3 separate regions of the Homo sapiens genome follow, and all the other regions are linked to region 1. Evidence: fine-mapped expression QTL. A gene starts in region 1. Each other region holds a variant in brackets. All regions are shown on one strand. Distances are between the middles of the regions.

The links. PIP is the estimated chance that this variant, and not a neighbour inherited with it, causes the effect.
Region 2: its variant is fine-mapped to the expression of ADAMTS8 in hippocampus (GTEx, PIP above 0.99).
Region 3: its variant is fine-mapped to the expression of ADAMTS8 in testis (GTEx, PIP above 0.99).

Annotation. Positions count from the first base shown.
Region 1 is chr11:130,423,915-130,432,088 of GRCh38, forward strand. It overlaps ADAMTS8 (ADAM metallopeptidase with thrombospondin type 1 motif 8), which reads right to left and starts at 4,695. Exons shown (of 9, transcript NM_007037.6): 1 at 3,653-4,695. The coding sequence starts at 4,372.
Region 2 is chr11:130,455,655-130,463,828 of GRCh38, forward strand. ADAMTS15 (ADAM metallopeptidase with thrombospondin type 1 motif 15) reads left to right here. Exons shown (of 8, transcript NM_139055.4): 2 at 5,835-5,967; 3 at 6,433-6,600; 4 at 6,843-7,126. Among named protein-coding and RNA genes, the nearest start is that of ADAMTS15, 11 kb to the left of the region's middle. The variant C/T (reference allele first, on the strand shown) is at 3,318.
Region 3 is chr11:130,398,300-130,406,473 of GRCh38, forward strand. It overlaps ADAMTS8 (ADAM metallopeptidase with thrombospondin type 1 motif 8), which reads right to left. Exons shown (of 9, transcript NM_007037.6): 9 at 6,624-7,829. The coding sequence ends at 7,259. It overlaps ZBTB44-DT (ZBTB44 divergent transcript), which reads left to right. Exons shown (of 7, transcript NR_148980.1): 6 at 2,711-2,788; 7 at 5,002-5,358. Among named protein-coding and RNA genes, the nearest start is that of ADAMTS8, 26 kb to the right of the region's middle. The variant T/G (reference allele first, on the strand shown) is at 3,484.

The sequences.
Region 1 (8,174 bases):
AGATAAGAAGGTGGGAGACAGGGGCCCCTTTTCTCATGGGATTAAATGAACTCAATTGACAGAGCTCTGGAAAACTTCATTGTCGCGTAACATAGTGAGACCAGCTTTGGCAGTGGTGCGTTCTTTCTCTCAGCCTCCACGGCGGTTTCTTTGCAGGATAGGGCCTCACAGTGGGCCTGGATGGCTTTGAACTGCTGGATTTAAAGACCCACTCCCACAACATAAGCAAGTATCAGAGGGTCGACAGAGCCACAGACCCTAGTCCTGAGAAAGAGGCCGCCTGGTGGGATAACAGTGCACAGGATTCAGCTTTGGGAGACTTGGTCTGCAGGCCCAGCCCTGCCACTTACTGATCCTGATCGGTGCTGTCTGATCCTGAGGAAGCCACATGTCCTCTGTGAGCTGTGCAGTCTCCCTCTGCCCCCCTCACTGGTATTTTCATGGAGGTGATGTGTGTAAAACCACGCTGTGAATTGAACACGCTCAGAGAGTGGCTAAACCTTCCAGAAGACTGGCTCATCATGAAGCAGCCACACAGGTGCTCAGACCGGGATTGATCACCTAGTCCAGGTGTCCTGCTTCACAGATGAGGAACTCTAAGCCCTAGAGAGGTAAAGGCTCTTCTCATCCTCCACACCCCTGATTACCAAGAGTAATCACCCCAGAGTGCCTTCCCTCTGTGTGAATGAGGTCTCCACATAAAGGACTGGCTTCCATTTGCAGGAGGTGGGTGTGGGCAGCCAAGGTCTTGAGGCACGGGAACTTGATTTTCATTCTTCTCTCAGCTGGGCTCATGGATCTGTTTTCGGAAGCGCAGGGGACTGAGCTGAGACAGTCACGCCTGTCCTGCAGCATCTCCAAGGCTGGTCAGCTCATCATAGCACAGGGGCCCGAGGGTGGTCCTGGACACAGCTGTACCTCAGTCCCTCCCCCACCCGCCACGGTGGCAGCAGGAGCACAGGTGGGATGGGACATGAGACCCAGGGTGGAGGTGGCGGGGCTAGTCTCCCTGAGGGAAGACTTTTCTTCCAGGTGAGACTCAGAAGTCAACCCCCTAGGGAGAGGAACTCAGCCTTCAGAGGTGCCCGATGCCTGTTTTGCTGCGCTCTCCTGGTCCAGGTGGGCTGGCTGGGTGTGCAGGTGCCAATGTGCAGCTGGGAAAGGTCCAGAAATGCGTGTTTGTGGGGGATGGGGAGCGGGGCAAGCAGGAGCCACATCGCCCGGTCAGGAGTCTCATGAGGATGGCAATGCCTGGGTGTCTCTGACACAGAGAAAGCCGAATTGTCTGGGGCAGCAGACCTGAACTTTAAGCTGAAGGGAACAAAATCGGGTGCAAACCCAAGCAGAGTCTCCTGCTTCAGCAGCCCGGGCATCCTGGGGTCGGGCCTCAGAGCATGTCTGCCTCTAGATAGCTAGGATGTCTGGAGATGCGAGTATGTCCCTGAGGCAAATACTCAGTTATCTCCAGCGTCCAGGTGATCAGCTGAGAGAGTGAGACAGTCTGGCCCTGAAGGCTGAAAAATGGACTTTCTCTGCTGGCACGGAGTTCTCTTGGCTTTCCTATGTTTTGGTTCTTAGGTAGATGTCAGAATCTGTTCCATGTGTGGGGGTAGAGGGGTGTAGCACCCCGCTCTGGGTTTGCAATGGGTGCATCTTAGCTTCTTACTTTTTTTGTGTTTTTCTTTTTTCTTTTTTTTTTTTTTTAAGATGGAGTCTTGCTCTGTCACCCAGGCTGGAGTGCAGTGGCGCGGTCTCCGCTCACTGCAAGCTCTGCCTCCTGAGTTGACACCATTCTCCTGCCTCAGCCTCCCGAGTAGCTGGGACTACAGGCGCCCACCACCACGCCTGGCTATTTTTTTTGTATTTTTAGTAGAGACGGGGTTTCACCGTGTTAGCCAGGATGGTCTTGATCTCCTGAGCTTGCGATCTGCCCACCTCGGCCTCCTAAAGTGCTGGGATTACAGGCTTGAGCCACCGTGCCCGGCCATCTTAGCTTCTTTCTGGTGGAGCCCCCTAGGAGCCAGGTGTGGGGGTCCTAAAGAGATGGGAGAAGCCCTCTTCTCACCCCTCTCCTGCCACACTCTCTAGTACTTGCTTAAAGAAAGGAGTCAGAGGAGAGGGCTGGTGCTCCCACCGCTCCGTGCTCTCAGGACAGGCAGGGAAACAGGTGTTAAATCAGCGTGACCCAAAGCTGCTCTGCCCTGCTTTTGGGGAAGCAAATACCACAAGGGCTTGCAGGGGTGCGTCCCTGGGGTGTAGTCAGCACCTGCAGTAGCCAGAGGGGCAGCCACGTGGACTCTCACCCACAGCAGTTCCCATCCTAATCATCTGTTTCTCCCTGGGTCTTTCCTACCCTGCCTTTCCCAGTGATAGAGGGTGGGAAAGATGGGGTGAGAAACAGAAGGCTGATCGCCTCCTTGTCTGGACTATTCTGCACAGGCAATGCCTATGCCCTTGGGGCCCCCAGCAGTCGGGCACAGACTGAGCCTAGTATTGGGTCCCGGCCAAGGATGCCATCACCACAAAGTGTCAGCTTAGCTGCTGCATTGCCAGGATCCCTGTTTCAGGGAACTATGACGTCTGGGCAGGTCAGTTCTTCCTTCCCTGGCACATCTCTGGTTCTGTGCTCCCTAGGGGCAAAGAGCACCCCTCTTCTGGAAGCCTTACCCTCTTTTCCTCCTGGAAAAGCCTTCACCTGGTCTTTAGGGGAGAAATTGGGGTTTAGGGCAACACAGACACCTCCTGCTGAGTCAGCACCATCTTTGCATCTAGTTAGAAATGGTCTGGTTAGGTAGCCATCCCCTGGACTCTGTTTTTCTCCCCTGTTTAGGTAAGAGCTGTGTCTGGGCTAAGGGCAGCTGGGTGGACCAAGTGTGGGTCTGGCTTTACTAGAGACATTCACCCAAAGAGCTCGTTCCAGCCCCTGCGCCCCTCGCGTTTCCACCAAAGCTTCAGCTCCTGGGCTGAGCCCCCAGGCAGAAGTTCTCTGCCCCTCCCTCTTGTGCTGGCTGCTGGCATTGCCAAGTTCTGCCGGGGCTGAGCGCCAGGTTGGCAAGGTAGTCCATGCCCCATTGATCACAACCAGCTGGCTGCACAGAAGTTGGGCAGCCCCTCTCCAGGTTCAGCTCCTTTCAAACAATGTCTTTTGCTTATGGCGACCTCCATACCCAAGGGAATCAGACAGCCATCTCTCTCCATCCCATCTGCCTTTCCCTGGGAGCCTCTCAGATCTGGAGGCAGTAGAGGGCTGAGGGGTGGGAGTGGGAGCTATTCGTAAACGCTCAATTTTCATCTCTGCTGGGAGAGGCAGGTGCCGGGGAATGCGTTGATACCCACTTTCGGGTCAGTGCGCCACGTGCCGCGGGAGATTCGGATGAGAGGGATGGGCGTCGGCAGCCCCACTCTAAACTGGAAGGGACCTGGGGGTGGGGGCGCAGGGATCCAGGGTGGCAGAAGTTCAGAAAAGAGTTACTGCTCTTTCTCAGACAGGAGAGAATCTCGTTTGGGGTAAGGCTGGAGAAGATGAGTGGGGAGGGCTTTTTTTTTTTTTTTTTTTTTTTCTCAGAGGGATTGGAAGGGGAGATTTTAGAGACGCTGGGAGGCGTCTGGGGGGCCTCCGGGCACGGCGGCTGGAGGAGGCTCTCAGTCCTACCTGCAGGTCGGCCCCGTAGAAGGCAGCCATGGACGCATCGGCCACCAGCAGCGTCTCCACGAAGCGCGCCTCAGACACAAACCGCTTGGTCCTACTCGTGGCCCCCAGGGGCGGTGGCGGCTCGCTAGCGCCTTCTGCCTCCTCTTCTTGGCTCTCCTCCTCGCTGTCCTCCTGGTGGTCTCCTCTCTCCTGCCTCTGACCCTCTCCCGTCTCCACCTCCCACTCGGGTCCTCGCGGGAGGGGGCGGGCTCCGGCGGGACCCCAGCGCTGCAGGCGGTGCGGCTGAGCCAGGGAGCCCCCCGCGCCCTGCGGCTGGATGGTGAACTCCTCGCCGTCCAGCAGGAAGGAGCCGCTCAGCCCGCGGCACAGGCTGACCGCCGCCAGCGACTCGGGCTCCCCATTCACGGTGCCGGAGAAGAAGCAGCCGCGCAGCCCCCGCTCGCCCCCGGTCGCCCGGCCGGAGCCCCCGAGGCGCTCGATCTTGAACTCGGGCGCTAGGAAGCTGTCGTCGGGCGCCAGGCGCAGCACGAAGCCCTTGCCGAAGGCGGACAGGTGGAGCGCGAGCTCGCCCGCGCTGCCGGGCAACCGCGTGGGCACCACCAGCTCCGAGGCCTGCCCCCCGGCTGCGGGCCGGGCCGGGGCGCCGCGGGCCAGCGGCAGCAGCAGCAGCAGCAGCAGCAGGAGCGGAGGCCACCGGGGGGCGGCGGGGGCGGGGAGCATGGGGGCTGCGGCGGTGGCTGCGCGCAGGAGAGGGAAGAAGCCCGCCAGGCGCGGGCAGGTGCTGGCGGCCCGAGCGCGGCCCGGCCGCTCTCTCCAGGAAAAGCGGAATCAATCGGGTGCAAGGCCGACTCGGCCCGCGGGGCCCGGCGGCGGGAGCGCTCCCCCGGCGGCCCCTCTGGCTGGCGCAGCCCGCTCCTCCCGCGCCGCCGCCCCCGAGCCGAGCGCGAGCAGCTGGCCCCGGCCCGCGTGCGCCCGTCCTCCGCCCCTGCCCGCGCCAGCCCCGCGCAGCCGCCTCCTGCCTCCTCCCCACCCCGGGAAGCACCGAGTGGGCTGCCGAGCCCTTCTTATTTATACTTCCTTCCCGGCTTGACATAAGAGGTTTATTTTTGATCTCTCACTATTCCCGTTTCCCCTCCCCTGGGATCAGAGAGAGAAACTGAAAAGAGGGAGAGAGAGTGGAGAAAAAAAAATTGGGATGAAATGCAAAACCAATCAGGCAGCGAGACCCGTCCGCCACCCGCCCCCCTGAAGTGTCAACTACAACTTCTTTCCTTTCCCTCTACGCGTGGACCCACGTTAACCCCTACCATGCTGGACTGACCCTTTAGAAAGAGTCCCTGGGAGACCCCAACCGCTTTCTCCTCTGCGGCCAAGAGTCCAGGATGCATCTTCCGAAGAGGCTCGTGCACTGGTCTCAGCGACCCTGTTCGGATCCCTGCAGAGTCCGACTGCAGAGCCCGACACTGTTGGGATCCCTGCAGATGCCTCCGGAGATCCGACTGTGTGGGGAGAAGGTTCCTGAGCTTTTCATTGTAAAGCATAAAGGGAGAGGAGGAAAAGGTCATGCTAAAATCATGCCCTCCTCTCATCACTACTGCACAGCCTTCCTAACTTTCACTCCAAACTGAAGATGGGGAAAACAAAAACAAAACAAAAAACAACCCACCTGGTTAACCCTAAGAGGGACTCTCACTGTCCTGTTAGAGGGCAGGTGGGGCAGAGGCCAGCACAGTGGTAAGTTACCAGCACTGAGGTTGGAAGTTAGCATTTCCCCAAGAGGGAAACAGACCTCCAGTCCCTGAAAAAGGTCTTCTCTTCTGGATACTGCTAGTTGCCCGGGACTTCAAGTAAGGTGGCAGGCCCTTTCACTGCGTTGCCACAGCCCCAGGAACAAATGTGTATGAGGTGAATTTATTCTGTCCCATGTCACCACTGCCCCCTAGGGAAGGGGGTAGTATTCAGGAAGAGAGGGATGACATGGTCTCAAGACCACAAAACTGCATCCCATCCCAGTCTCAATGACACAGGTCTGGATTGGGTGGAGGGCCCTGTTCTCTACCTACAAACTCTAGACTCATCCACCAACTGTGCCTTTCTCTGAGTTGTCAATGTGGGTGATGCATTAGGAACCGCTGGGATCAGGGCCTTTAAATCCTTTGCCAATTCACCTGCCCCCAGGTACCCAGCTCTGTGCTTATGCTGGGGATGTTGACAGTCGAGGTCATCGCTGATTCTTTTCAGCCCATCTGACCCCTTCCTGCAGTGTGGTGGTTCAGCATGCATCTGAGACTCTCAGGGCTTGTTACCTCCAAAGAGGAGGCTCTTGCCCAGGGGAAAGTGCTGCCAAATTCCCTCTAAGTATCCCCCCTCTCTTTGCTTTCTCAGAAACACAGAGGGACAGCTGTGAATTAGATGAAAGGATGAACTTCCCAACCTAGCATGGTGCAGAACCTCCTTTCCTGCATAATTTATAGGATAGGAATAACGAGTCTAGAATGTTTTGGGGAAACACTTCTAGAGGAAGGACAATGGAAAGAATGGTCTCTTCAACCCTTTTCTCAAAACAAGCAAAACACTTCGTCCTAGCACAGTGTACAGTGCTTGGGACATCCTGTACAGTGCTTGGGACAGTCTGACCTGGGCAAGCAATGAATACAACTCTGTGTTGCCTCAGGGCTATTGTAACAGTTCAATGACTGGTTTTTACCTCCTTGAAGCCCCTTATTTGCTGTTTCCCAGAGTACAACTCCTGATTTTCTCTTTTTGAGACACAGTCTCACTTTGTCACCCAGGCTGGAGTGCAATGGTGCGATCTTGGCTTACAGCAACTTCTCCCTCTCAGGTTCAAGAGATTCTCCTGCCTCAGCCTCCCAAGTAGCTGAGACTGCAGGCAGGCACCACCACACCTGGCTAACTTTTGTACTTTCAGTAGAGATGGGGTTTCACCATTTTGGCCAGGCTGGTCTCCAACTCCTGACCTCAGGTGATCCGCCTGCCTCAACCTCCCAAAGTGCTGGGATTATAGGTGTGAGCTACTGTGCCAGCTAACTCCTGATTTTCAGTAGCAGTTAGGTCCTGTGGGTTTTCCTTCTTTCTCGAGTGTAAGCATCTGGGAGGAGTGGGAGTGAGGAGCGTGCCCAGTTTCCCTTTCTCCCGCCCGAATGCTAAGGGCTAGAAGTGGGAGATTTAACTGAACCAAGGAAAGTCTTGAGTGTCCATGGAGCCTTTGGTTGTGAAGGCTCTGGAAGTTGCTGCTTCATTTTTATTTTAGTTTTTAATTTTTTGAGATGGCGTTTCGCTCTTGTTACCCAGGCTGGAGTGCAATGGCGAGATCTCAGCTCACTGAAACCGCCTCCAGGGTTCAAGTGATTCTCTTGCCTCAGCCTCCCAAGCAGCTGGGATTACAGGCTCCTGCCACCATGCCCGGCTGATGTTTTTTTTTTTTTTTAGTAGAGACAGGGTTTCACCATGTTGGTCAGGCTGGTCTTGAACTCCTGACGTCAGGTGATTCTCCCACCTTGGCCTCCCAAAGTACTGGGATTACAGGCGTGAGCCACCGAGCCTGGCCACTGCTGCTTCATTTTTTTAATAGGATGAAGTGCCCCCATAGGTAGCATTTTGGAAGTTCTCTTTGGAGAGAGAAGTCAGATAGTGAGTTCTGGACTTTATCCTTCCTCATTTCAACAACAACATCACCACCACCCCCACCACCCCCACCACCCACCACCGCCGCCGCCGCCACCACCACCACCACCACCTGCTGACTGGTTCATTGACTGGCCCCGCAGTCCCCGCTCCCTCCTGGATTTCCCCTTCCCCAGATGTGCAGTGCTGCTAACTTCCAAGGTAGCTCCTGCCGTTCGCAATGCAACCACAAGGTGTCAGGCTTACCTTGGCTATGTTAAACCCAGGACCTGGCTATGTTAAACCCAGGACCTGGCTATGTTAAACCCAGGACCTGGCTATGTTAAACCCAGGACCTGGCTATGTTAAACCCAGGACCTGGCTATGTTAAACCCAGGACCCTTGCCACAGGGAGCGAGAAAGGGTGGGTGGTTTGTAGTGGCCGCTCTTAGAGGAGTGGCAGGTGAAAACAGTGCAGCAAAACAAACATCAACAAACCAACCCGTGAAAATCCCATAACGGCATTCTGCCAATTCCGGATTTCTTACATTACTACTTTATTTCCCAAAATATGTAATTACGGCAGGGTTGCCAAACTACGGCCCTTGGGCTAATTGCTGCACACTGCTTGTTTTTTTGCACTCTACAAGCTAAGAATAGTTTTTATATTTTTAAGTGGTAAATTAAAAAAATTAGAAAGAATATTAAAATTTCTTGACACTTGAAAATGGTATGAAATTCAAATTTGTGTCCATAAATAAAGTTTATTGGAATGCAGCCACAGCCATTCATGTACGCATTCTTTGCTCTTGAGCTGCGAGGGAAGGGTTGAGTAAGCCTAAAATATTTACTATCTGGCTCTTTGCAGAAAAGTTTGCTGACTCCTGAATGTAAAAGA
Region 2 (8,174 bases), 32 kb after region 1:
TTTCATCTTGGCTCTTTGCCATGAGGTTTTGCCCTGAAGAAAGGAGGGGCTCCAGAGAGGTGTGTGTTTAATCCACCTTGGAGTCAGCAGACAAGGTGCATGGCAGGGCAGGGACGGGGTCAGTGTGTCAATGCAGGTGTGGGGCAAGGAGCCGGGGGCTCGTTCAACCGGAGAGGTGGCGCAGACGGTGCACTCAGAGCACTCTCGGCACTTAATCCTGCCTCTCCCTCTCCCCAGGCCTCTCCCCACTCAGTGTCAACCGGCACTTGCTTGAGCTACAGGGCGAGGCCTTCCATTCTTGGGGCGATATGCACCAGAGGCAGCAGGAAGTCATGGTGACAGCTCAACCCTGCCGCTGTGCTGCCTGGACTTCAATCCTCACTCTGCGCCCTTCCTCTCTGTCTAACCTTGGGCTTACTGTGTGACCCTGGGCTAGTTACTTACCTTCTCTGGGTCTCTTCTGTGCGATGGGGCCTGATAATGGCATCTTCTTCCTACAGCTGTGAGGATTAAATGAATGAAGGCAGATAAAACTCTCGCGACAGTCTGGCACACAGTAGCCAGTCAGTAACTGTTAGCTATTATCGCTCTTCTTGTAGGCGCCCTCTCTCTTGAAGGGGTGATTTTTTTTTTATAGAAGATTTAGCCTTCTTGCAAGCTTGGGGTCCCTCTTCTTCCTCATTGAGGTAATTATTATTGTTTTGGTGACCTCACTCTCTTGCAGTATTACCATTTTGTACATCTGGAGGGATTTATATGCCAGTGAAATAGAATCTGCCAGTAGAAGTAACTAACATTCTTCGTCACATTGCCAAGGCACTGAATTGCTAGATTTTATTTCTTCTAGCAAAGCAAGGCCCTCCCATCCTTGGGGATTACAAACAGACATGGATTTTGGGCTGGACAAGGAAATACAGTGATGCATGGCAGAGATTCGGATGGGAAACAAGTTAAAGGTACAGTAGTAATACTAGCGCAGGGTGCTTTTCACCAGTAATTATGGTCTCCTAACTAGTGTTGCATGATTTAGACCAAAGAACATAGCTTTGGATTGGGGACCTCATTCTTTGCTTAATAGCCATGGGGACTGGGGTGCATAATCTCAAGTCACTGAGCCTCAGTTTCCTCATCCGCAGCATGAGAAGACAGCCCTGCAGTCCTGTGAGTATAATACCTGGATGCTGTGATGTAGCCGCAGAGATGAGCTCTGGCTCTCCTGCCTAGAACTTCAATGGAAGCAAAGTCCGCTACATGAGAATGCGTATGTCTTCTGCCACATTAAAAATGTTAAAGTGCGGCCAGGTGCGGTGGCTCATGCCTGTAATCCCAGCACTTTGGGAGGCTGGGGTGGGTGGATCACTTGAGGCCAGGAGTTCGAGAGCAGCCTGGCCAACACGGTGAAACCCAGTCTCTACTCAAAATGCAAAAATTAGCCAGGCGTGGTGGCGCATGCCTGTAATCCCAGCTGCTCGGGAGGCTGAGGCACGAGATGCTTGAACCCGGGAGGCAGAGGTTGCAGTGAGCCGAGATCACACGACTGTACTCCAGCCTGGGCAACAGAGCGAGACTCAGTCTCAAAAAAAAAAAAAAAAGTTAATGTGCTTGATTTTTGTGCATCCCTCTGTCTTTGTACTGCTGGAAAACATTGAGCATCTTGGTACATGCCTGGGAAATGAGAAGAGGTAGGAAGGTGGTTCACAGGGATGGCAGCTGGTGGGAATCGTGGTGGAGGTGTGTATGGAGTGACACTGGTAAACAAGCTACTGTCAGATGTTATCCTTGTTTATTTATTTAAGGTGTGGCTCCAATCCTAAATTATTTTATAAGAAGGGACAGTTAGAAAATAACAGTCCAGGAGGATTAAGGTTCCTGGCCAAGATGATTCCAGGATCATCTGGAAAAGTGGCTGCAGCTACAAAGAAAAACAGCCAATTGCTGGGAATCGTGAGGCAGGTAGGGGCTGGGTTAGGAATACCTACACCTTCTGGGAGGAAGAAGGCAGAACAGCTTCTGTTTTTTGGAGGCAAGCACTTGGGCTGAAGAGGTTAAGGCAGTTTTAGTGCCTCTGAGTTCATTCCAGAAGGGTGGAGATTTTTGATGCCACAAAGGAGGCACTGCTGGGCCCCTGTATAAGCACTCGTAGGCGTTCAAAGTGCAGAGGCCCAGCGGTTCTTCATTGAGTCCCTGCCGGGGTGGGGAGGAGGACAGGCAGAGCTTCTGACCCCATACAGCTGTGTCTTCCCACAGTGAAGACGCTGGTTACTGCAAGACGGCTGCTTCCAGAGCCACTCTTACCCTCAGGAAATTTGCCGGCTCTTTCCTTGTTCCTCTCATTTGATCCAGGGAAACCGGGACTTCTTGATGGAAAGAACAGGTTGCTTCTGGCCAAGAAGGGCCTGCAGCTGCATGTCTTTGCTCCAGAGAAAATCCACCCTCCCTAGGAGGAAGGAGGCTTTTGGCCGTAAGGACTTCCCAGCCACAGAGGCGGCTGCGGGGTGGCTGAGTTCCAGACGCCCTCTAGATCCCAGTCTGAGCATTCAATCTGGTCTAGCGGTTTCTTTCTTTCTTTTTTAAATTTTAATTTTTGTAGAGATGGGGTCTTGTTACGCTGCCCAGGCTGGTCTTGACCTCCTGGCCTCAAGTCGTCCTCCCGCCTTGGCCTCCCGAAGTGCTAGGATTACAGGCCCGAGCCACTGCATCCTGCCTGGTCTAGGCATTTCTGAAGAGCGGGGCCGGGGAACAGGACTCTGAATCTCCACGTGGGTGACTTCCACTTTTCTGAGAGCGAGTGCTGTCAACTACATGACTTGGGTCAGTAGACAAGATGTTCCTTGGGGTTCTAAAAATATGTCATTCTGTGGGTTCCCTTTATAACCTACAGGGCCAGAAGGGGCTGCATGCTCTGGGACTGGGGAAGGAGCAGAGGCTGAAAGCACTGGTTGATTCAGGCTCTAGTTGAAAGTTGGCCCTTCCCCAGAGCAGGAAACCAAGGCCCCGAAGAGAGAGGACTTGGATAAAGTCACACATCTACTTAGTGATAGGGCCAGGACCGGAATCTAGACTTCTTGATTCTTATTTCTGCGCCCTCTCCCTCTTACACAGGGAGCAGTGAGTGTGCAGGGCAGCCCAGAGGCAAGGGTAGGTGCCTGCCCCCGCAGGCTGCAACTGCTAGGCTAGAATGTCCAGAGCTCCAGCCTTGCTGGGTCCTACACCACACCCGTCCTACACCTACATCCTTCACTATGCCCTTGCAAGAGCCTTCATCCCTGCCCTCATCTTGGCTCCCTTCCCCACAGTTCACACGCTGATCCATGTTT[C/T]TCAGCTGTCACATTCCCTAAACTGCTGGTCGGGTGAAGGTCCCCTCCCAAGTGTTTTTTTTTTTTTTTTTTTTTTTTTTGAGACAGAGTCTTGCTCTGTCACCCAGGCTGGAATGCAGTGGCGTGATCACGGGTCACTGTAGATTACCCTCCCAGGCTCAAGTGATCCTCCTACCTCAGCCTCCTCCTACCAGCCTGGCCAACATGGCGAAACCCCATCTCTACTACAAATACAAAAATTAGCTGAGCATGGTGGCAGGTGCCTGTAATACCAGCTACTAGGGAGGCTGAGGCAGGAGAATCGCTTGAACCTGGGAGGCAGAGCTGGGATTACAGGTGTGCACCATCATGCCTGGCTAATTTTGTTTATGTTTTGTAGAGACAGGGTCTCACCATGTTTCCCAGGTTGGTCTTGAACTCCTAGACTTAAGCGATCTGCCTGCCTTGGCCTCCCAAAGTGCTGGGATTACAGGCATGAGCCACTGCGCCCAGGCCCCTCCCAAGTTTTGACAGTGGTTGTTTTCTAGGTTTCAGAGCTCTTGGGAAGGAAAACTTTCTGGGAGAGTGGGTCTTTGAAGACGAAAGAATATGGGAAGAGAAGGGCATTTGAAGTCCTCCATGGGGCTCCTAGAAGTGGAGGTAGTGCTTCCAGCAAGCACAGGTGGCAGACCTGGCTGGGTGTGCAGGGCACACATCACTGCCTCTGGTGCACCCGGGTTCAGGCTGGTCACCCTCGGAATAACTGTTCACTCATTAGGAGGTGTGACTATCATCTGACCGTGGGAAGCCAAGTTTGACTGCTCAGGTGGTAAACCTCTGAGTGCTTTGGATTAAATTTTGCTGATTTTCTGTACTCTGACCGCTTTTCCTCCCATGCCCCCTGGCTCCTGGCTCCCTGCGCTGTGCTGCTGCCCACCTTCGCCCCTTGCCAGCATGTACACAGATGCACATGTGGCCTTGCATATACGTGCACATGCATGCAGACACATGCTTCTTTGCCTGTGGAAGGTGGTAGTAATAGTCGTTATTTCAGTGGGATGTTGTGAGGATTAAATAGGGCTGTGTGTGCAAAGTGCATGCACAGTGTCAGCATTTAATACATCATAGCCATGATGAACTATAGGCATGAGCCTAGTTCCCACCTCTGACACATAGATACAATAATATGTCTGCATCATAAGCCTATTGTGAGGATTAAATGAGGTGACACATGTAGCAGCTTCCTGTGAAATGCAGAATGCCTTATGCATTAAAGGCAGCGATGTAATGAGAGAACCAGCATCACTGATTCAACACACATCTTCTGTTTTTTTTTTTTTTTTGAGACGGAGTTTTGCTCTTGTCGCCCACGCTGGAGTGCAATGGTGTGATCTTGGCTCACTGCAACCTCTGCCTCCCAGGTTCAAGCGATTCTCCTGCCTCAGCCTCCCTAGTAGCTGGTATTACAGGCACCTGCCACCATGCTCAGCTGATTTTTGTATTTGTAGTAGAGATGGGGTTTCGCCATGTTGGCCAGGCTGGTCTTGAGCTCCTGACTTCAGGTGATTCACCTGCCTCGGCCTCCCAAAGTGCTGGAATTACAGGTGTGGGCCACCGTGCCTGGCCCAACACACGTCTTCTTAAGAGGAGCAGAATGTACACAAATGTCTTATCCTATTTCCAACTTTTGGGCTTTTAAGTTATCTGAATGTGTTTCTGGCCAACGATGCTCAGTAAGTTCTTTGAGATATCCACCCCGGAAGCCCTATCCTGCCTTTCTGCGTCCCCTGGGAATACTTCCTGTCAGGGTTTTCTGCTGGAGGCCCTAGGTTCTGTGGCCAAGTTAAGCTTCAGTACAAAACGAGGGACCTTCCTGCTTAGGTGGCCATCTCTCTATTTCATGTATCTTTCTTCCTAGCAGCCACTGAGCGTGTGTCCCCTTGAGCTTCTGTAGCCAATGAAACTGTGCCGGGATGGGGTCTGGGGTCCACCTCAATGCTTCCTCCCAGCCTGATCACTGGCATGGGTGGGTCCTTGGCCAGCAGCCCTCTGGCTGAGAATCTTAACTTAATTCATGGTTGGCCAAAAGGCAGCCCAGCAAAGACCGAGGCTGCTCGAAGCTGCCTCTGGGTGGGAATGGGACTGGCTTCCTCCCTGTTGCCTCAGCGAGCCTCCCTTGGCTATGGGAGTCACTGTTTTTCTGGTCTGGAGGGCCGTCTCTCTATAAAGTAGTGGCCCTTGTAGTTTAATTTTGTACCTCCTAATTTCCTCCCAGAGGACCTCCCTGCATAGGGTTTGGGCAGAGTGTTTTTGGTGAAGCCACAGAGCTCTTCCTGGGTTTCCTCCCTCAGCCAGGTTGATTCTGTGAACAGCCCCACAACCTCCTAGGAAGAAGAGCCCAGCTGGAAGGTGCTGGGCCTGGTGAGGTTGGAATGAGATGAGCTGGAATGTCCTATAGGATGTCCTTTCTTCCCTTCAGGTCCCTTCTGTCACTGTCTCTAACTTCGGGCTGGCTTCTGCTTCTCCCCCACCCGGCAGGACCTGTGTGGAGCCACCACCTGTGACACCCTGGGCATGGCTGATGTGGGTACCATGTGTGACCCCAAGAGAAGCTGCTCTGTCATTGAGGACGATGGGCTTCCATCAGCCTTCACCACTGCCCACGAGCTGGGTAAGGCTGGATAAGCTCCTCCTGGGGTCTTCTGGGTTTGCCTGGGGAGCCTGGAGGGTGGGAGACGTGTGTCTTTGCCCCCTTGTGTTCTGAAGCCTTAGGACCCCTTCTTAGGGCACAGTGAGCCTTAGCAGCAGCTTTGTACTTTTTCCGATTGCCCCAGCCCCGCTGGCCAATGACGTGGTTTGAGCCCCTTGGCAGAGTGTCTCAGCACTTAGGCACTGTGGGGACACCATGTTAACGACAAGGAGGTACACTCTGTTGTCAGGGAGCCCACAGCCTGACGGAGGGGACAGAAAACACAAGAACATGATCTTGAGGACATTTGAAAGCAGTCTGTCGATAGTTGGCAATGACCAGCCTGAAAACCTCTGACATGGGCTTTCTAGTTCCCCTGCCCCATTCCTCCCTCCAACCCCCATGTCCTTCCTCCTGCCCTCTCAGTCCTCTTGCCTTACCCCACAGGCCACGTGTTCAACATGCCCCATGACAATGTGAAAGTCTGTGAGGAGGTGTTTGGGAAGCTCCGAGCCAACCACATGATGTCCCCGACCCTCATCCAGATCGACCGTGCCAACCCCTGGTCAGCCTGCAGTGCTGCCATCATCACCGACTTCCTGGACAGCGGGCACGGTAAGCCAGGACGGCGGGAGGGCAATGAGGCCGCCTCGGAGGGGGCTTTGCTGCTGCCCCTGGTGGAGGTGCTCACTTCTCCGTCCTCTGTACATTAGGTGTGTGTGCCCCCTCGGAGCCGGGCTCTGACATGAGTGCATTCCTGTTGCCCTTGGTTCATTATCCCCTTACCATTCAGATTCTGGGCTAGCCAAACCTCATCTTCCCAGCTCATCCTAACGAACGCCCTCGGCTCTCTGCAGGTGACTGCCTCCTGGACCAACCCAGCAAGCCCATCTCCCTGCCCGAGGATCTGCCGGGCGCCAGCTACACCCTGAGCCAGCAGTGCGAGCTGGCTTTTGGCGTGGGCTCCAAGCCCTGTCCTTACATGCAGTACTGCACCAAGCTGTGGTGCACCGGGAAGGCCAAGGGACAGATGGTGTGCCAGACCCGCCACTTCCCCTGGGCCGATGGCACCAGCTGTGGCGAGGGCAAGCTCTGCCTCAAAGGGGCCTGCGTGGAGAGACACAACCTCAACAAGCACAGGGTGAGTGAGTGCTGGAGCTGCGCTCGGGGACTGCTGGGAGGAGGGATGGAGACCCGGGGGCCTCGTCTGCCCTTGGTCTTCACCAGGAAGGTGCCTATCACAGACTGGCCACGGGACCAGCACTGTTGCATGGCTGAGCTGTGCCTTCACTGCCCTGTATATAGTCCTATCCCCTTCTTGACTCTAAGACCGGAGAGAAAAGCTATGGCAGGTCAGAGGACTTGGTGAGGCCTCAGACACATGGGGAAAAGCCTTCAACAGGACGTGGGGTCTCAGCCCTGAGCTCCGGGCCTCGTCCTACCTGGGGAGGAGCTCTGGGCTCAAAACTGAACACATAGTGTCAGGAGCGGCTCACTCGCTGGCTCATCCCTTCCTTCTCTCATCCACTCTTTCCCAGTGTGTTCCACACCCAGGGAGCTGGGGACCATGCTCAGGAACAGGGCTCAGAGCTGCAATGAAGCAAAGCCCTGGGCAAGCTTCGGGAATTGGCTGCATTCTGAATCAAGCTTCCATTTCTGTTGCGATTGCTGTTTTTCTTTAGCAGGAACATAGTTGAATAATACTTGTTTTCCCTCCTGATAAATACGAATAGCAACCAAACAAGAACACATTCAGAATGCCAAATATTCTCTGTATATAATAACTTTATCTTGTTCAGGTCTTGTTTTGGGGGTTTTGGGGGTAGGAGAGGGATTTGTACTTTTCCGGGCAGGAATAAGAGGTCTGTTCTCCTCCCGGATCCTGGAGCTGACTGTCCCTTCCCATCCCCTGTTCTCAGCTCGGGGACGACTTGCCTCTGGGCACAGAGGCAGTGTCACAAAAAAGCATCCACCAAGCACATTATCAATTGCCCTGAGATGAGTATGGCACAGAATTATTTAAAATGTTTTTCTGTGTTCTGGGGATACATGTCTAATTAAACCTTCAACCGTTGGCTAGGCAAAAACCCACTGTGTTCAGGGAACTGTGTAAGATACTGTGGTGGTCAGAAAAAGAAATAAAACACAGGCCATGCCTCAGAGAGCTCACAGTCAAGTGGGGAAGCTCG
Region 3 (8,174 bases), 26 kb before region 1:
TACCAGCTACTCAGGAGGCTGAGGCAGGAGGATCACTTGAACCCAGGAGGCGGAGGTTGCAGTGAGCTGAGATCGTGCCGCTGCACTCCAGCCTGGGCAACAAAACCAGACTCTGTCAAAAAAAAAGCTAAGTGCACAGCAACATGAGGGTGCTTAACCTAACCTGAGGGTTTCATTGAGGGTGTGACCTTTAATCTGTGACCTGAAGAATAAGTAGGACTATGTTAAAGTGGGGAGAGAAGAAAGAGGAAAAGGAACATTTCCGGAAGAGGGAAGAGTATATGTGATGTTTGGAGAGAGAAGTTGTGTGCTTTGGAAGAGCAGCAGGAATTCAGGGAGCGAGGGGAGAGTGGAGAGACATAGCTGTGAAATGCGGGAGTGAAAAGACACAGCACCTGCGAACACCGATGGGGAGCTGTCAGCAGAGAGGGAGGGGCTGGGTCTTTGGGAAGGGAGGGGATGGTGGAGGGGCTGAGCGCCTTGAGAGGGTGGAGGGCTGCAGTATTGAGAAGGGATTAGTTTTGACAGTGGGAAAATACCTCTCATGTAACAGAAACAGAAGGAGAAAGGATAGATTTTAAAAAGGATGGATATACAATGGTTTTCAATTTATGATGGTTCAGCTTACAATCAATTGTTTGACTGTTCGATGGGTTTATCCCAATGTAACCCGATTGTAAGTGGAGGAGCGTCTGGGCTTAGGACGATTCAACTTACACATTTTTGACTTTACAATGGATTTATTGGGATATTAAACGCATTTTAGTCTTACGATATTACCATGGGTTTATTGGGGATGTAACTCTGTGTAAATTGAGGCGCATCCGTAGCTACCAGCAAGATTTCAGGATTCGTGGTAAGAAACGAACAGGGTTTTTAAAATTACGATTTCATTTTCTTGTGTTTTTTTTTTTTTTCCTCACCCTGTCCTGCTTCCTGAGATCTGACACATTTGTAGGCTAGGCTTTCGGTAATGTAACTCCAGATGGAGAAGAGGGAGACATTTTTTCACATCCTAATGCACCAGGGATAGGCTAGCAGGAGGCCACAGTTAGTACTGTGCAAAGCCTACTCTCTTAGGTATGCTGTCCTTGGTCCTGTCCCTGTGAGAGATTTTCCCCCTTCCCCTCACCCACCTTTGGGATCTGAAGAACCATCTCCATCTAACAGTGAAACTAGAAAGAACCGAGGGACTGACAGACCATGTCAGGGCCACACCCAGGACTCCAAACAGTGGTGGAAACTGAGGGGCCAACAAGGAGGATGAGGTAGAGAAGCTGGGCCATGAGGGAGCCTGGGTGTGTATTTATTTATTTACTTTTGAGAAGGGGTCTGGCTCTGTCACCCAGGCTGAAGTGCAGTGGTAGGATCACAGCTCACTGCAGCCTCGACCTCCCTGGGCTCAGGTGATCCTCCCACCTCAGCCTCCTGGGTAGCTGGAACAGCCCTGGCTAAGTTTTTTATATGTTTTATAGAAACGAGGTCTTACCATGTTGTCCAGGCTGGTCTCAAACTCTCGGCCTCAAGTGATTTGCCTGCCTCAGCCTCCCCAGATGCTGGAATTCCCGGCATGAGTCACTGTGCCCGGCGTATTTTTCTTTTTCTTTGTTTTTTTTTGTTTTAGACCTAGGTGTTTAAATCTCATGATGTACTGTGCCCTTCAGAGAGCTGGAGGATTAATTTAATCAGGGGGAGGAGTTATCTTCTGAGTCTTCACTCTCCTATGGACTTGACAGAGATTGAAACATGCCTGTTGAATCCAAAATAAGAGAGAGTTATAATGTTCCTCTAGATTCGTGTCTATACGTGGCCCGTTAATGGTGAGCTGGTGTCCCCTCTCCCTTCCATGATAAGAGATACGGTACTGGGCTCCACTTAGCAGTGGAGGTGAGTTTGTTCACTCACAGCGAAGCGTGGCATGGGGATGAGCTGGAGGAGCATGGGAAGCGCAGAATAGTTCTGTGGACAACCATCGGTATTGCTGAGAGGGGGTCTGCTCGGGTTGCTGGACAGTTTCCATCAAACGCTGTAACTTTATGGTGGCACCAGTGTGCTCAGGGCTGGGATTCCCCCGGGGTGTGGATCTGCTTGTAGCAGGATGACGTGAGAGGTGAGAGGTGGGGAGAGGGGAATGGGTGCCGTGTGAGGCTCTGCCTGCTGAGCAGCACAGAGAGTCTGTGGGGCAAGGGCAGTGAGAACACTGGCAAGATTGAGGTGGAGGCGCTGAACGTGGAGTCCAAGCAGCTCAGGGAAAGCTGAAGACAGAGGAGCAGGAAAGATGGATGGGGGAAGGACACGTGCGGAGGCGGTCAGGGCATGGGGAAGGATGCATTTATGGGAAAGATCTGGGAAGATGGGAGATTGTGGTTGAGGAGGAGGAGATTTGATGTAGGACTTCAGAGGTGGAGCAGTTCTGAGTAATGAGCAGCTTCAGAACGTGGCTTCAGGGCAGCCTCGTTGAACCTTGTCACTGATGGGACCCTCTCTTCCATCCCATGTCCACATGGCTTCTCTCCTTGCAGCCTCTGACGCACCTCCCCCGCAGCTACCCTTTTCCTATTTTCTGGTCCAGCAAGAGGAACTCACAGCATCTTTTCTTACTTCCGGAGAAATTCATTCCACATGTGTCTGATTCATTCGCGTTTACAGAAACTTGAAATTTCCAGTGTCCAAAAACCCTTTCAACTATTTTTTTTCTTCCCTTTCTTAGAAACAGGAAGTTGTGTTTGGCTGCGGACAAACTCTCTCAGTGCCCCTGGGACTTACAAGATGTTTGGAATGAGGAACGGTGAGGTCTGGGGAAGGCTTCTTTCCTCTCTCCTTTCCTGGGGCGATTCGCATCTGCCAGGGCTGGGCTGGGCAGCTCTGGGGGCTGGAAGGCCAGCCGGAACCTTCCTGTCTCTTTCTACTGAGCCCCAGGCCTGAGGGAAAGTATGTTCTAAAGAGACAGGTGGCTTTCTTGCTCTCTGCTTGTCATTACGGTTCAGAATGCACTTGTGCACTGGTGTCATGTCTCTTCCCAGTACTTGAGCAGTGGCTGTGATGAGTCCCTTGATCTATTTCAGGGGGTGTGGGCTGGCCGGCACTCAGTTTTAAGCAAGTCCTGCTCTTTCCAAAGTGGAAGGTCAGAAAAACTCCCCACCTGAAGAAGAACGAGCCAGGGAAGTGTGGTACCAGCTGTTTAGGACCACACCTATTGGTTACGTCTGGCCAGGTCATTCTGCAGTGTTGACCTGGAAAGCACACAGGTGCTTAGGAGGGGCTGGCCAGGGGCAGGGAAAGTGTGGGAGTCACAGCCCACCCACTCCGTTCGCGGGACCCTCCAGTTTTTACTGTTGCTCGTTGTGTTCTCCTGTGTTGTTTAGAATGTTGTCATATGTACGGTCAATACAACCACAGTATTTGTCGCATTAGTGATCACCAACATTGAGCCAATGAAGACGCTGGCTTAGATGGGTGACTTCTTCTTTCCCACATTCCACA[T/G]GCAGCTCTCCCAATGCGAGCTCAGCGGAGGCCCCCAGAAAAACGTGGGGAGGAGAGTTTTCCCCATAAGACAGACTGTCCTTCAGCCCCGGCCACCAAAGAGGAGTAACCCGGGCCTGCTGTTCTCTGGGACTGAATGCGGCTGCATCCTTCCCTTCCTCTGCTTCCTGTCCCGGTACTTACTGACGGTGCACATGCGGGGCTTGGGGAAGCTGAGTGTCTAACCGCGGTGCAGCTACGGATGGGAAATTCTGGGCAGGGACGAGCCTGTCTTCACCTGAGGAATTCCCTCCCACATCACACAGGGCAGAGTGGGAGTGGAGGAGGGCAGAGGACACGTCTCAGGGCCAGTAACCTAGGCTTATAGAAGACGTCATCACCGTCCTCATGATGTTCACCCCGTCTCCTGTTTTTTGGGGCCATGTGTTCCGAAATGTAGCTTCAACTCATCATAGGGGCAAAAAGAAGTGATGAGTCTGTGGCAGCAGAAATCTGGGAATCCAAGGGTCGTGCTACATCTAGTCCTCTTTGATAAATTCTGCCTTCCTGTTCACATTTTTCGAGAAACCATTTTGAATTCCCAAACAGCAAAGGAAATGCTGCAGGTTCCTGGAGGGACCTGGTGATCTGGGGCAGAGCACACGGAGTCGAGATTGCTGCGGGGTTCACGAGCCTCCCCTCCTGGGACCAGGGGCACCTGGGCAGGGTAGTCTGCACCACGCAGGAAAGCCCAGTACACGCAGCTGCTCAACGCTGCAGACGCCATAGCGCAGGGCTGACAAGGCCTCCCTCTTTATCTGCCCTGGACCACAAGTGGAAAATATCAAGACAAAGCAAAAGCCAGTATCCCTTAAGAACTTTCCAATTGTTCTTGTCATTTGTAGTTTTGTTTTTTGGGGGGTGTGGGGAGGGAGGGGTGGTTTGAAACAACTCCGGAGCACACTCCAGAGGAAAACAGGAAGGGTGACATGTTTGGACACCAGAAAAGAGGAAGAGTCCTCACTAAGAGGGTGACTTGGTTAAAAAGTTCAAGCACAAAGGATGTAGAAGCAGGTGGATGTCATCAGAGAACAGATGCGGATCTAGTGAGATGGGTCCTACCACCCCTGGAATATGTTCCTGGGAGAGGGGTGGTCTGCTAGAGTGGACTGGGAATAGTAATATTGCATACTTTTGTAAATTCACAAAACCCTCTGATCTGTGATAGAGGAATAAAGGGCAGAGGATAAACCCCAGATAAAGATTCACTTATCTTAAAAATGAAAGGTTGGAAATTAACTTTATGCTACTGTACCACCTTCGAAGTATTTCTGGCAGGTGCCTGGAGGATTCAGATTAATGACCAAATTACCTGCCAAGTCAGGGCCTCCCATTAGAAGAGAGTACCAGTTTCCATTAGGAGCACTAGCTGGAAAACACAATCTTTCAGCAGAGGAAATACAGTCTTCTCTCCTTCTCTGGGTGCACAGAGTGGTCGTGGTTGGCTGGGGCAGATAATGGTGTGGTCTTCCTCTGCAGATCTGGTTTCTGAGTCCCTGGGCTGCAGCTGTTGAATTTCCAGACACAAACAAGTATGCGTTCTGAGAGCCTCGCCGAGCCCACACAACCGGGAGAGCCAAGCTGGATTCCATTCTGCTTTGCACATCAGCAGCTCTGCTGCCAGCTGAACTCCAGGGCAAAAGCTGTGCCTGGTAATGATGCAGGCAGCAGGGATGGCACAGCTGGCCTGGCTTAGGCCGTTAAGGGGGACACGCTTGGCCTTATTTGGGGGAGAGCGAGAAATGGAAGGCGATGAAGAGTTGCGGAAGCATACATCAGCCTCCACAAAACTGGTGCACAGCAGGGAAACAATCTGGTTTTGCTAGTCATCAACAACATGCCTGTGTGTGTGCCTGTTTATGCTTAGGTAAGCCCAGCCTCCCACTCGCTGAAAAGAGTAGGCAGACAAGAAGGAGTGACCAACTCTGAGTCAGCTGTCATCGTGTAGAGAGCAGCTAAGGGGAACAGTGGGGCTGGAATCTCATGGCCTTGCCTAGTGCCCCTACAGCATCCTCTCTGCCCATGGTGCCAGATATCTGAATGGGAGGACAAAGGGGGCACAGGTGGTGAAAAAAACCAAGATGCACATTTGGGTATTTTCCTTCTTTTGCTAGAATGTCATTTCTTGATGTCTGTTTCTTGTCACCCATTTGTGATCAGGGACTAAGTAAGTTCCCTCTGCACCAGACCAGGTGGAAGACTGAGCCAGAGTTCCTCTGAGCCACAGGAGAGATGAGGAGCTATGGAGCGGAGTAGGGGCTGAGGATCTGGTGCCCCCAGCTAAACTAAAAGGAGGCAGGCAGCATGTAAGAGGATGATGGGGTAGCTCACAGAGAGGAAGGGGATATTCTTTCTCAAGAATGATGAGCCCAAAGGCATCGCATAACAATTGTGATCTCCCAGCTGGACGTTTCCTGTAGCACAGGTGTTCACAGTGTGGCTCCCAAACCAGCAGCCTCCATGTCAGTCACTGGGAACTTGTTAGAAATGCAGATTCTCAGGCCACCCCAACCATTAGATCAGAAACTCTGGGGATGGGGCCCCACAATCTGTGTTTTCTTTTCTTTCTTTCTTTCTTTTTTTTTTTTTTTGAGACAGGGTCTCACTGTGTCATCCAGGCTGGAGTGCAGTGGCATGAAAATGGCTCACTGCAGCCTCAACCTCCTGGGCTCAAGTGACCCTCCCACCTCAGCCTCCTGAGTAGCTGGGACTACAGGCCTGTACCACCATGACCGACTGATTTCGTTTTTTAATTTTTTATAGAAACAGGGTCTCGCCATATTGTCATGGCTGGTCTTGAACTCCTGGGCTCAGGCAATCCTCCTGCCTCAGCCTCCCAAAGTGCTGGAATGACAGGTGTGAGCCACTGTGCCCAGCCTCACAATCCATTTTCACAGCCCTCTACGTGATCCTAATGAAACCTTGGGAACCACTGGTCTAGATCCTGCAAATGAAAGTTGCCCGAATGAGCTGGATTCTGCAGGCCTGTGAGGACCCAGAGCAGGCAGGGATCCAGCTGCTGACCTAGTTTCAGCCTCCATCCCTGGGTTCTAGGTTGCTGCCCTTTCCAAAGAAACAATGAATCAGACCAGACCACTGCATTGGCATAAGATCACACTTTAGTTCAGAGACACATTTGCATAAATACTTGAAATGGATCCACCCCTGCAGGTGGCAGCCTGAGAACATGTGGCTCTCCAAACCCTGCGACGCTGCGGCCCTTTAGGTGATGGATTTTAACACTGAAGACAGTCGTGGTCATTCTTGAAGACAGCTTGGGGTCCAGCTTTGGAGCCTGCTTTGACATTCACCATTGACTCCCTGCCCCACGCCTCTCTTGTACTAATTTTTTCCCCTGTGAGGTAGATTATTTATCGGGGAAACCAGATAGAATTTTTTTTTTCATTTAAGTTTGCTAGTCCTTTGCAAACAGACTGACGCTGAGTGTCCTGTCTGAGTCAATAAGTGCACTTTTACCTTTTAACCTATGCCCTCTACTTGAACCCGAGCAAGGTCCAGTCCACTGGACAGTTGATGATAGGGTCTGCCGCCCCATACCCTCTCCTCTTCCCCCTTAGGAATTTGTGCAGTACTGGAGGGGTTGCGGCAATGGGAGGCCTGGGTGGGCCGTGCTGCCTTGATATGGCCAAGGGACCCAGTCACCACAGTGGAGACCCTTGTCTGCACCTCAGTACCGCATGTCCAGGAGCACAAGACTGGCCCCTGCCCCCCTGAATCACAGGGGGCACAGCTGGCTTTCGCAGGGCTTGGCATCCTCGGGTTTCAGAGCCTTGTTGCAGGTGGCAGAGGCCTGGCCGGAGGGGTCCCTGCACTCTACAGTTCGCCTCTGCCAGCCGGCCCCGCAGGTGCTAGAGCACTCAGACCAGTCCCCCAGCACCCACTGTGCGTGGAGCAGCGGCTGGATGATGTTGGTGGTTGCTCTCTCTTTGCTGCTCTGCATGCTAAAGTCCACGTCATTAGGAACAAAGAAGGTGTATTTGACTTTTGGGGGGAAGACCTCGCCAGGGACTGTCAGGAGCTGCACTGTCAGAGGCTCTGGCAAGGGCCGGAAGCTCTGCAGGCGCTCCAGGGTGGCGATGGAGCCGCTGTACTTCAGGATGGTCCCCTTCACCAAGATGTCCTGCTCTATGGCAGAGATGGCCAGGTTGCCGTTGAGCAGGTACTGCCCATCAGCCGTCTTCAGCGCCAGGTAGTTCCCATCGTTCTGCACACCCGGGTGGCTCCGCTGCTTCACGTCAATATTAGTGGCACCAGCTGGGATGGTGACAATGTCATTGTAGCCATAACTGTGATAGAAACAGAAGGACACCCTTAGACCAGTGGCTGCCCAGCCCAGGTCACGATGATGCCTTGGAGACTGAAGTGGGCACCCCAGGTGGCAGACACGAAAAAAACAAAGCAAGTAATTAAGCAAGTTGCCTCAAAGTTCTCAATAAATTAGCTGTTTAGGCAGACAGAAATGTCTGTACATTGGGATTTTCAAGGGTGTTTGCTTCATCTGGCAACTCTATTTCAAAAGTGTGGTTGAGGAGTTGAGGTATGTGGGTGTTGAGAACAGCATAGAGACGAGGAGAACCCAGAAGGATGTGGAAAGCTGCACTGGTGTAGCCAAACCTGGCACCTGTCAAATG